Linked DNA regions of Homo sapiens: region 2 is linked to region 1. Evidence: fine-mapped expression QTL. Tissue or cell type: thyroid. Region 1 holds a variant in brackets; the other region holds the start of a gene. All regions are shown on one strand. Distances are from middle to middle.

Evidence for each region. PIP is the estimated chance that this variant, and not a neighbour inherited with it, causes the effect.
Region 2: it holds the start of PTK2B, and the variant in region 1 is fine-mapped to the expression of PTK2B in thyroid (GTEx, PIP 0.99).

Annotation. Positions count from the first base shown.
Region 1 is chr8:27,444,382-27,446,881 of GRCh38, forward strand. It overlaps PTK2B (protein tyrosine kinase 2 beta), which reads left to right. Exons shown (of 31, transcript NM_173176.3): 24 at 1,413-1,538. Among named protein-coding and RNA genes, the nearest start is that of MIR6842, 12 kb to the left of the region's middle. The variant A/G (reference allele first, on the strand shown) is at 987.
Region 2 is chr8:27,324,603-27,327,210 of GRCh38, forward strand. PTK2B (protein tyrosine kinase 2 beta) reads left to right here and starts at 950. Exons shown (of 31, transcript NM_173176.3): 1 at 950-1,079. RefSeq lists enhancers at 995-1,144, 1,195-1,244, 1,850-2,608, 2,025-2,094.

The DNA of each region.
Region 1 (2,500 bases):
TGGCCTAGGTTGACTCTTCTTTGGCACCCAGAACAGAATGCAGACTCAGATCACAAGAATTAAAATGCAGTTCTCCCAGGCTGTGCTCAGCTAAGACCTGCCTTAAGCCCCATCCCTCTGTCTACATCATCTGCTGCTTTGTGTGCCTGCCTGCTGCTCTCTCCCCACATCTAAGGCCTCCCTGGCCTCCTTACCAGAAGGAATCCCAGGGAATATTTCCCAACAAATGGAGTAGCTCCATGGGACTCCCCAAAGAGGCCCCATCCAGAACCTGGGTGGCCATTGAAGAGACAGCAGGGTTTTACCTGAGCTTTCTCCCAGCTCCATTATCCCCAACCATGACTCTTTCCCAGGCTGTGCGTCCCTGACCCTGAATGTCTCTGTTCTGTGTCTCTCTTGCCTCTAGGAGAGAGGGAGTCCAGTCTCCTCTTATTTCTTCTCTTGCATCCCCCAGCTCAGAGCCACTGCTCAAAAATTGATCCCCTCAACCACCAGAAATAATGTCCATTTAGTTGGTGCCCTTTATAGAAAGGTGGTGTCCCATGGTCCTATATTTGTTCTCAAGGAAATGCCTGAGTGCCAAAACAAGACCATCTAAGGACTAATAGATAAATCCTCTTCACGTGAAGAGAAAGCCTGATTCAGAAGATGGAAAAATCGTTCTGAAAAAAAAGAGATATACCCATGTGCAATATTTAAAACAGGGAGTTAGGTAGGGTGGAACACACCTGTAGTCCCAGCTACTAAGGAGGGTGAGATGGGAGGATTCATTGAGCTCAGGAGTTTGAGACCAGCCTGGGCAATATAGTGAGACCCCATCTCTAAAAACAAATAGTAATACAATAAAATTGTGATATACTTATTTTTTAATTAAAAAAAATTCAAGGCAGGCATGGTGGCATGCATCCGTAGTCCCAGCTATGTGGGAGGCTGAGGCAAGAGGATTACTTGAGGCCAAGAGTTTAAGGCTGCAGTGAGCTGTGATC[A/G]TACCACTGCATCCCAGCCTGGGCAACAGAGCAAGAGCCTATCTGAATTTTTAAAAAACAATTCATACATATCTGTATAAATTGGTGTGTTAACCACATCAGTCAGTCTGTAATGCAACTGAAACAACTATTTTTTGAAGAGTCCTGAAGGAAGAGCCCTGGTCTCAGTGGGTCCGTAACCAGCATGGACCCCACTGTGTGCAGAGCATCTTGGGGGAATGTTGGATGAATGAGAGGCTGCACTGCTCCACCATCTCTCTCGGAGCAATGGAAGGCCCACGTTTTGTTCTTTATTAACTCCTGGAGAGCAAGCCCCATTCCCTGTGGTGCTCATGCATAGTTTCTTTGTGCTCGTGTTTGTAGCAGCTAATTGTCTACCTTCTCGCTTTGTCCCGTGCCTTGTGCTTCTTTGCTTTTCCTGAATAGGTTCCTGAGGGTCTGTGTGCCAGCTCTCCTACGCTCACCAGCCCTATGGAGTATCCATCTCCCGTTAACTCACTGCACACCCCACCTCTCCACCGGCACAATGTCTTCAAACGCCACAGCATGCGGGTAAGAGGGCTCTGCATGCTGGTCCCTGCCCGGACTGAGGAGGCTGCTGGAGGGAGGTGGCCGGGGACACTGGAAACCCCACGTCCTCAGCTCAGGAGGGCCCTTCCTGTTCCCATGCACCAGTCAGGCCACTGAGGTGGCACTCTGTGACTTCCTTCCCTTTGCAAACACATCAGAGGCTGGCAGCCACACCAGGCCCTGCTCTGGAGGACACCAGCTGGACCTAACCTGCCCTTGGCCATGCTGGTGCTATGGCTAGAGATGTACAAATCTCCCCCTCTCCTGAGCCCCAGGGGTAGGGGGATCTGTGGCAGCTTGGAGGCTCCTAGGCAGGGCACAGCACAGCTTAGTGGTGCTGGAGAGTATCCTTCCTAAATGATGGCTTTGGGTGTGAAATCTCTCCTCAGTCAAAGGAAAGGCTTTCTTGTGGCTGCTCCCCTTTCTGCTTTTGTTCAGGCTGCTGCTGGGTGAGAAGGAGTTTAGGGCTAGTGGGAATACAGCCTCATTAACTGGCTAGAGCAGGGACCTAAGCCACTTCCCTTGTCAGCTCTTTGTCACGGGGGGTTGTTAACTGCTGGTGAAGCCCGGAGTGCTTCATGGCTGGCTTCTGATTGTCAGGTCTTGTGTGAAAAAGACACTTTTGCTTATAACCAGATGCCCACTGGTCACCAACCACCTTCTTCCATACAAATGGCCCCTAGTGGTCAGTTGCCACGAACACTTGATCTATTTTACTAAACCAACTAAAACACTTATTTTAGCTCTAACTCTGCATGCATGCACAATATTTCAGGCTCACTAAACATGACTAAAATATTTTTTGAAAAAAATTAGATGTTTATCATAATATATTTGGAAGATGTAGGCAAGTATGCTGATATTACTTTCATGCCATTATGCTTAATTTAGTAGAATTTTGAAATGAGCATGATAACTTAGAATTCCAGACACTAAGATTTTTT
Region 2 (2,608 bases), 120 kb before region 1:
GGCGCCATTCTCAGAAAGTACATTGTGAATAGCATCCTCTAGAATTGTGCAACAGGGCAGCTCTGGGAATCAGATTCCAATCCTGCACAGGACACAGAATAAAGAAGCTTGGGACAGGGGCTCTGGAGAGGACATTGTAGGATGAGGATGATGCTGCGTACACTCCACTTTTTTCACTTTATGCCAAGTCCAGGTCACTTCCTCCTCCTACTCAGGAGCAAGTCTGGAGTTTTCCTAGGGATAGGGAAGAAGTGTTGCTAAGTGCCCTTGAGTGCCTGCTCACATATCACCGGCCTGAGGAAAGAGGGGACCAGCCTCTGGGCGGGGCCCCTGGAAGGGGCTGTCCAGCATCTCTAACTATTCTTGTGCTGTCCTCAGACCCTACTTAGTCACAGCTCAGGGACCTGGTCTTCTGTGTTCAGGGACCTGGACCGGTTCTGCCAAAATCCCTAGTGGTATTTATGATTTTTCATGCCTGCAAAGGGACTGGGGCCACTTTAGGACATGGAGAGATTAGGACACAAGTGCTCAGTACCATGTAGATATAACATCTCCCACTGCGGGGGGTCTTGGGAGAACCAGCCTGAGAAGTTGGTTTCCTCCGCCCGCCCTGCGCCCCCACCCACCTCACACACACCTTTTGGCCTCCAAAAGGCTGCAGGTGGAGTGGACAGAGGATGGAGGGGTGTTAGGAATTGGGGAGTTAACTGCTCACAAGGGGCACATAACATCCGAGGATCCCATTTGCGGCCGGGGGAATGGCAGAGATCGCCCCCCAGGTCTGCCCGGCGCTCAGGGAATTGGTGGCAGCGTCTATTTCAGAGTTTATGGTAAGAGGCTGGAGCCGGCACACACAGACAACACACCCCACCCTTTAAGGAAGTGGGGAGGAGAGCAGCAGGGGTGTGGTTAACAACTCAGAGGAGGAGGGAGAATCTAACCTGTCAGCCCTTTTACTCAGCCACAGCCTCCGGAGCCGTTGCACACCTACCTGCCCGGCCGACTTACCTGTACTTGCCGCCGTCCCGGCTCACCTGGCGGTGCCCGAGGAGTAGTCGCTGGAGTCCGCGCCTCCCTGGGTGAGTCCCTCCCGCGAGCCAGGGCTGAGCGCTGCGCCCGGCAGAAGTTGGAGGCTTGACCGGGTGGCAGGGGTTGGGGACAATTCCGGGATCCTGGGCACCTGAGCTGGGAGTTCCCGGAGAAACGGCCAGACCCAGGAAATCGGAGCCGTGGGTGCTGTGCACATGCCCGGAGCTCGCCAGCCTTCCGCGGGGAAGAGGGGTTCTATTTTTGGAGTAAATTTGACACTATAGGGTGTTTCTCCCTCTTTGTCCTCTCAACATATTCAGACAGGGGAGGCTGGGGGAGGCTAGGGGTGACGGTGTGAGGGCACAGCCAGGCTGCTGCCTCTAAAGCTCAGGTTAGGGAGCCACGGGGTTTCAGCTCCTGCCCCCGCTCCCCGCTCCCTCCCGGGCCCTTCCGCAGCCCCAGGGGTTATAGTCTCACCCCCAGCCCACCCTGACTCTCCTGCAGCCACTCCTTGCACCTGAGAGGTCATCTTCTGAATCAAGCCCTGGCTGGAGGAAAGCAAGGGTGTTCTGGGGCACAGGGGAGCTCGTGTGTATGTGTGTGTGTGTGTGTGTGTGTGTGTGTGTGTGTAGTTAACACTGGCCATTCTGGTATCTTGAGAAGCCGCCTCCTGAGTGCCACTCAAGGGTTAAGTTCAGAGCTGCCTCTGCCTGCTGTCAGGCTGCGCGTGGGCACCGCTTTGGGTGGGTGAGCGTGGAGCGGCATATGGGTGATGTTCTGCAAGCCCTGCCACCTGCCCTAAGCCTCGACCACATGACACTGGCATCTCCCTATACCCCAAACTGGGAGCAAAATCCAAGTCCGCTCATTTAAGGAGCCAGCAGAAGGACAAGAGCAGAAAGTTGTGCCTAGAGGTGGCTTTAGCCAGGAGGAACTCGGAAGCTGCGCTGTGGCTGGGTCTGAGCCCACTGGGGCAGTGCACGTGGTGTGATGTGGTGGTGGGTGCTGGGAGGCCCCTCTACGTGGGATGCTCTCTGTTCACCCCAAGTGCTGTTGCTGAAGGCCCTGTCTTTCCCAACCACTCTGGGGGAGGGGGAGGAGGACACTGATGAAAAAGTGACTAAAGACAGAAGGGAGGAAGGAAGTAGTCACACTGGAGAGCCCCAGCATTGGTGGGACAGTCTGCAGTCATCCATTCAGGAGGCACTCACTGGCTTCCCACCTGCGGCCAGGTGCAAGGTGTGGGGACAAGGTGAGTGTGGCATGGCCTCTGCTCACCAGGGCAGTGTGGGATACCGGGTGGTTGAGGGAGGGCTGCCAGGGGAAGGTGCAGGGTACTATCCAACCCTGCACTAGAGGGCTGTGGGGGGAGCCAGTCAGCAATGGCCAGGAGGGCGTCCTGGCAGAAGTGACTCCAAATTGAGAGCTGAAGGATGACTAGAAATTAGCACAAGAGAAGAGGGGAAAGAACAGCAAGTGCAGAGACTGGAGGCTAAAAGCAGCAGGAGGCTGGAAGCAGCGGGCGGCATCCAGGAAAATGAAAGTAGCTGGGCTTGTTGGGAACCTAGAGCGTGCAGGG